Homo sapiens: one gene and its partner. The protein of the gene in region 2 purifies or fractionates together with the protein of the main gene of each other region. This does not show direct contact. Each region holds a gene or a part of one and is shown on either strand. Other genes may lie near its edges.

Region 1 (3,828 bases), on a different chromosome or scaffold from region 2:
TGGGGGCTTATACATTCCAATGGGGTCAGTCTTACTGTCACTCTCCAGAGGAGAGAGAACTGCATTGTCTGAGCAGTCCACACACATTGTCATTCCTGACACAGCTATATGGCATAACTGTTGAAGAGCTGTCCTACACAGTCCACGGATGTGTGATCACTGCTGCTCAATGCCCTTATTGGACCAAATCTCTGCCAGCATGATTCCATGCTTGGTTTTCCAAGGTTAGAGCTTGTTTCATTTATGCTTGCGTGCTCAGCCATTCTCCCCAAAGCACCTCACTCTGGGCTTTTGTTGAGCTTTTCACCAGGCTGGGTTCCCCTGGTGTCCTGGAGAGTTCTCTTTTAGGGCATTTGGGGCCCTTCCTGCTAGCAACCTTGGTCATGGTCATCTAGACCACCCAAGAGATGTCTCTGTTTTCAAACTTCTTATCAGAGTTTGTGGGCTCAGTCCCTTCTCTTCTTAACCTTAACCCAAATCCCTTTGGCAAATTGGTTCCACATACTCTCCAGGGTTCTGCCTACCGATGATTCTCAGGAATGACAGCCTTCAACAAGATAGCTACCCCAGGACTTTGGGTGCCTACTCACCTTACTTTTCCATATGTAAAGAGGGGTCGTCAGGTCACCCTGAGCCACACAGATTTAGGCATTCTGGAAAATTTACTTGGCATGTACCCTGTTAGGGATTTTGCAGGCAAGGTTTTAATTTAAAAATAAAGGATTTTAGTTTTCTCAATTTTTCTAAGAAACAATAATCAGTATATTTATTTCATTTATTTGTTTTAAACTTTTTGAATATGAAATACAGCAAATATGCATGGTAAAAAACACAATATATAGTTTAGCAAATAACTCTAAAGGAAATACACACGTAATCACCAACATGTCAAGAACTGGAACATTGCCAATACTCAGTACCTGCTTCCAAATCATAATTTCCTCCCCTAGAAGAAATCATCTTGTGATAATCATTTTTTTGCTTTTCTTTGTAATTATATCACCTATGTATATATCCCTAAACAATATAGTTTTAAGTTTTTTAATTTCATACATATAGAATCATACTTTTGCATTTTGTGTTTTGCTTCTTTTGCTCAACTTGTTTGTGAGATGCATCCACGTGGCGGCCTCACTTATTTTCGTTGCCAACAGTGTTTCATGGTATGGCTGTGTCACAATAGATGTATTCATCCTGTGGTTGATGGATACTTGAGTTGCTTATAGTTTCTGACTGCCAAGTACATCCTTAGATATTTTCTGATGTATTTGAACAAGTTTCTTTAGGTTATATATGTTAGAGTACAATTGCTTTACTAGATAGTGTCGAACAGTTTACTTTCCTACCAGGAGTATATGAGAGTTCCAGTTGCTTCATATCCTGGCAAATAGTTGCTTTTATTGGTTTTAATATTTTAACTATTTTCATGTGTGTGTCTTGATATTTCTTGTGGTTTTAACTTGCTCTCCTTGGTTACTCTTGAGGTTGAGCACTTTTTTCTTTTTTCTTTTTTTTGGAAACAGGGTCTTGCTTTGTCACCCAGGCTGGATTGCAGTGGCGTGATCATGGCTTACTGTAGCCTCAACCTCCTAGGCTCAAGAGATCTCTCCCACCTCAGCCCCCTGAGCAGCTGGGACAGCCAGATAATTATTTTATTTTTTTTTGTAGAGACCAGGTCTTGCCATATTTTCCAGGCTGGTCTCAAACTCCTGGACTCAAACTATTCTCCCATGTCAGCCTCCCCAAGTGCTGGGATTACAGGTGTGAGCTACCATGCCCAGCCCTTGAGCAGTTTTTTGTTGGTTAATTGGATTGCCTCTTTTGTGAACTGTCTATTCATGTCTCTTGCCATTTTTAAATTTTTTAAATTGATTTTTCAATAAGGAAATATATATATATATATATATATATATATATATATGGCTCTCTTTTCACCCTCTTAAATGGTGATATCTTCGATCCCATTCTGTAGAAGCAGGGCATAAAATAGAGATTCTTGTTCAAGTGAGACTGTGGGAGAAGCCCTCAGGAAGAGGAGTATGAGGAAAGCTGGATTGGGGGAGGAGAGGCACAGCCTGGTGAGGGGGCAGTTGCAGTTTTCTGGAGAAAGGGACATCTGTGAGTTGTTCTCAGCTGACACCACATCTCAGTGACAGGTGTGCTAACCAGTAAAGATGATCTGGATGGAACCAGTAGTATTCTCCACAGTCCACTTCTTGTACCATACAGATAGGCTTGCTTCTTATATTAAGTTCACTGTATCCAGGTACAGCTTCTCCAGGATTCTGGTTAGTCACAAATCCTGGGAAAACTTATAAGAGGAAGATTAGTGAGACAAATTACAACCCTTGCTGCTGCAGTTGGTCCAGAAATCTAACAAATACCCATATCATCCTCTTCCACCATCCATTTTAGTTTCCCCTTCTTTGTCCCTTGAATGTATGATAGAACTTGGTGATGAAGCCACCTGGGCTCGCAGGTGTGTTTTCTTTGCAATCTTATTTTTGACCACAGACTCAATGTCTTTAATGGTTCTAGGGTGATTTTGTTTTTATAATTTCTTAACTAAGTAATATTTTCCTAGGAGTTTATCCCTTCATATTTACTTATATAAAGTTGTTTATAATTTTTTTTTTTTTTTTTGAGACGGAGTCTTGCCCTGTCGCCAGGCTGGACTGCAGTGGCGCAATCTCAGCTCACTGCAACCTCCGCCTTCCGGTTTCAAGCGATTCTCCTGCCTCAGCCTCCTGAGTAGCTGGGACTACAGGCACGTGCCACCACGCCCAGCTAATTTTTTGTATTTTTAGTAGAGACGGAGTTTCACCACGTTGGTCTGGATGGTCTCCATCTCTTGACCTCGTGATTCACCTGCCTCAGCCTCCCAAAGTGCTGGGATTACAGGCGTGAGCCACCGCACCTGGCCGTTTATAATATTTTCTTATCATTTGGTGTACAGCATCTATAGAGATATCCCCTCTTTCATTCTGATTTCATTTTAATGCTTTTTTTTCCTTCTTCTTTGGTTTTAGTAGAGGTTCTTTTCAGAGAACCTGCTCTTATCATCAGTGATAGTCTTCATAATAAATTTGTTTTCTGTTTCATAAGTTCTGCTCTGTTCTTTATTTTTCTCTTCTATTTTCCTTGGATTTATTTTGTTCTTTTTCTGACTTCTTGAAATTGATGTTTAGTTTCATTAATTTTTATCTTTTTGATTCTCTCTATTTAAGGTTATACATTTTTTTCCAAATTCTGTTTCAGCAGGAGTTCACAAGTTTTGATATGTGGTATCTCTGTTGTTTATTTCTTTTCTTTTTTTTTTCCGAGACAGACTTTCACTCTTGTTGCCCAGGCTGGAGTGCAATGGCACAATCTCGGCTCACTGCAACCTCCACCTCCCGGGTTCAAGGGATTATCCTGCCTCCTCAGCCTCCCAAGTAGCTGGGATTGCATGCATGCGCCACCATGCCCAGCTAATGTTTTTGTATTTTAGTAGAGACAGGGTTTTACCATGTTGCTCAGGCGGGTCTCGAACTCCTTACCTCAGGTGTTCCACCTGCCTTGGCCTCCCAAAATGCTGGGATACAGGCATGAGCCACTGCGCCCAGCCTTCTTTGTTGTTTATTTCTAAAAATATTCTAATTTCCATTGTAATTCTTTTTCTTTAACCAATAGATATTATATTCGAGAAATGTGTTTTGTAATATCCAAACATACTAACATTTTCTAATTATCCTTTATTTATGACTAATTATGACTGTGGTCAGTGAGCTTGTTCTGTTTTTGGTTGGTTGGTTTGTTTGTTTTTGAGACAGTCTCACTGTCTCCCAC
Region 2 (3,828 bases):
TAAGGTCATGTTGCAAACATCAGTTATACACAGTAAAATTTATCTGAAAAAAATAAGCACAGAAACTAGAGAAATCTTAGACGCATGGCCCAACTCTCTGCTTTTATGGACAGGGACACTGAGGCTCAGAGAAGAGAAGGGAATTACCCAAGACCATTTGTAGCCAGAAGGAGGGGTTCAAACAGACGAAAGAAGGAGCAGCTTCTCTTTTGGTGGAGGAGAGATGTGTTACCCAAAGTTTCATGGAAATCAAAGAAACTTTGAGATGATAGAATATGCAGCTTCCAATTGCATGTATTTTTTCCTCTTAATACTTCACAAGAAATCCAAATGCAAATCACAGATCTAGATGTCATGATGTTTACACTTGTGGTAACTGAATTGTGCACAATTGGTATAGCAAAGCAGCAGCTGAATGTGTAACTAAACAAACGTCCAACTAGCAGTCTTGCTGGAAGGACAGGCGGTTTTAGGGACTAAGATAGACAATGCACATCTGTTCTACAGTTAAAGTCTGCCCAACTTTATGGCAATTGCTCTATGTCATAAACACACCGAATGGTGCCTATTCACCTTCTGTTCCCCCAAAATTTCCCATCAAATACGTACTATTGTCATACTTCTATCCGTTGCTTGTAATATTAACCCTCCAAAATAATTAGGAAAGATTATTAACCAAGAAACCCAGCTGACAATATTGCCTTATCCTGTATGCCCTTGATGTAGAGATTTTAGCAGTGAAATAATTTAAATGTAAGAATTTAGGATAATGTACAGAAAGAAAATAACTGTAAGTAATACTGATTTGAAAAGCAAACACTTGAGATTGGCATGCAAGAATCACGCTGTGTGGAAATAGTTCACTTTTGGTCTCTATATGTAGAGCATGTAAAAATCAAGGCTGTTATTATCTAAATACATTTCTCACTTGGGATATTTCTCTTTAACATTTTACTCAATTCAGACCTTCTAAAAACAGAGCCAGAAATCTTCATTTATTTTTCCTTAGGTTTATGTAGGATATTAACTTGAAGGAATTTTCATGTCTATTTTCTTACTGTTCCTGGCTATAGCATTTTGATGAATGAGCCGAGCAAAAGAGCTGTTACTTTGTTCATAAATCAACAAATAAATTGAACATCAAATCCTGATTCCTAGGCTCAATCTTAGCTTCCCCTACACTACACGACACTTCCCCATCTCCCCAACAGTTTCAATTCCAAGCTGATTTCCTTTTCCTACACAGCAAGTTTTACATTTTTCCCCCCTCATGTCAGCTGATGTATATTCAACAATTTTAAATAAATCCATAAGATAGCTTAAGAAAAACTTGATTAAAAGGAACAATGGTCTGAAAATCACTCACCAACTTTCAAAACAAAACTGAAAAATTGTGACTATTAGGTTTATTGCCTTTTTTCTACATATAATAAAGAGGTTATTGAATTTTATGATGTTATTTGAAAATAATTCGATGTTTAGCTTTTATAGAACTCAATTGAAATAGTGTAGTTCAAAAAAAGCAGCAATCAGAACTTAATTATGTGTGTGTGTGTGTGTGTGTGTGTGTGTGTGTATTTGGTACTAGATGGTGGTGAACGGCTCACATTTATATATCTTGGTAGAAGATCTAGTAGTGTGGTAAAGAATAACAGAAAAATTCAAGAAAGAAAAAAGAAAAACCATTATTTAAAAATAGACATACATAGCAATAGTTGTGAAACCACAGAATTGTAGCTAAAATGTATAGAAGTGGTTTTAATTTCTAGTCTTTGGTAAAAGTCTCTTTTGATGCAAGGGATATTTTTTCTTGTTCCTACTGCAAAGATGTGAAAAACATTTCATGGTATCAAAAACAGATGTTCATGAGGGAAGCTGCGGTAAAGATGGATCAACAGAGTCTTGTGTAAATTTATCAGTGTCGTCACAAATAAAAGAGCAGCAATTTGGGCATCCAATAGATACTTCCTGAAGTATGCCTATCCGGCGGGGGACATAGTTTTCAGAATATGCAGAATATGTGAGTATTAGTTTTCTAGGATGGCTGTAACAAATTATCACAAACAGGGTGGGTTAAAACTAGCAACATTGATTCTCTCATAATTCTGGAGGCCAGAAGTCCAAAATCAAGGTGTTGGCAGGGCTGTGTGCCCTCCAGACTCTAGGGGTGAATTTGCCTTTGCTTTTTCAAGCTTCTGGTGGCTACTGGTAGATATTCCTTGACTGTGGCCTCATCACTCCAATCTCTGCTTAAGTGGTCACATTGCCTCCTCATCTTTTGTGTATCTTCTCCCCGGTGTGTGTGTTTCTCTCTCAAAACTCCCCCTTGTGAGGGAGGATACTTGTGGATACATGTGATTATACTGAGAACTCACCTAAATAATGCCAGGTAAGGGCCTCTTCTAAAGATACTTCACTTAACCACAAATTCTGCCGTATAAAGCAGAACTCACCGGTCCCAGGGATTTGGCATGGGATCTTTGGGGCTCCCATTTTTTTTTAACCTATTACAATGCATTTATGGTAAACCACATGGTAGGGCCTCTGACTGGTCATTACTCATGCTGTCAGCTGCAAATTTTGAGCATGTCTAATGAATGACTTCTCTAACTTAACTTACTCGATATATGAGAATCATTGTGTCCTAGTGCATTGGTATGAAAAAGGGGAGGTGGTCTCAGTATGAGCCATCAAATCAGAGCCCCACAGTGTCTCCCGTAACATGATGGTCCATGATTCTTTCTTATTGGATTGCGTTTGCAACAGGGACAGAAATAGGTCCTCAAGAGTCAATGACTAATGCATATGATATCCTTGAGATTTACAGATATTCTAGAGTAGTGGTTAAGAGGATGAAACATCAGTAGGTGGACAGTAAGGGCAATTCATGCAAATGTCTAAAGTCCAAATAACCGCATTTTGGGACTTTATGCATTTAATTATCTGAATTCAAAAAGTCAGTGAAGTGAGGATGAGCGTAAGATACTAGTGTTGAGATGCTGGGTAATATGATGGGGACAGGAAGTTAAAGATGAGTTCATATCATCTATGCACTTGATGCCTGAGAATAGCTACCATGGTTAGAACCGGTGCGTACTTTTTTTGTTCTAGAAGTTATCTCTACGTGGTATATTTCTTTTTAAAAAACCCGTTTGTTTGCTTGTATCAGCGATTATTCTATTCTAGTCCCCTTTGGCCATTCCCTTTAAATATGGAATGTGGGCTGGGCACGGTGGCTCACGCCTGTAATCCCAGCACTTTGGGGGGCCGAGGTGGGTGGATTACCTGAGGTCAGGAGTTCAAGACCAGTCTGGCCAACATGGTGAAACCCCGTCTCTACTAAAAATACAAAAATTAGCCAGGCATGGTGGCACACACCTGTAATCCCAGCTAATCGGGAGGCCGAGGCAGGAGAATTGCTTGAGCCCGGGAGGCAGAGGTTGCAGTGAGCCGAGATTGTGCCACTGCACTCCAGCCTGGCCGACAGAACCAGATTCTGTCTCAGACAAAAAAAAAAAAAAAAAAAAGGAATGTGGAATTAGGAGTCATCTGCTACTTGTAAACTGTGCAGCTTTGAAATAATTACTTCGCTTCTCTTGTTCTCAATGCACTCATCTGTAAACTGGGAAACTGTAAATATCAATCTCGGGGTTAGTGTGTCTATCAAATGAAACAACACATGAGAAAGTGCCCTTTAAACTGTCCTTACATACATGTTATTATAGTCTTCATATTACATGTCTATGCTGCCTGGTCTTTTGTCTTCAGTTTCAGTCTAGGGCTTGGTTGCTAAGTTCTTGTATTTTTCAAATGTGTAAGTATTTTTTC

What was found.
Region 1: the proteins of POU2AF2 (region 2) and FBXO10 purify together in Homo sapiens (affinity purification with mass spectrometry; one large-scale study listed by BioGRID and IntAct). This does not show direct contact.

Annotation. Positions count from the first base shown.
Region 1 is NC_000009.12:37,569,808-37,573,635, reverse strand, and holds part of FBXO10 (F-box only protein 10), read left to right. Parts: intron 1-3,828. UniProt on the Homo sapiens protein: Substrate-recognition component of the SCF (SKP1-CUL1-F-box protein)-type E3 ubiquitin ligase complex. Mediates the ubiquitination and degradation of BCL2, an antiapoptotic protein, thereby playing a role in apoptosis by controlling the stability of BCL2.
Region 2 is NC_000011.10:111,259,009-111,262,836, reverse strand, and holds part of POU2AF2 (POU domain class 2-associating factor 2), read right to left. Parts: intron 1-3,828. UniProt on the Homo sapiens protein: Transcriptional coactivator of POU2F3. This complex drives the development of tuft cells, a rare chemosensory cells that coordinate immune and neural functions within mucosal epithelial tissues.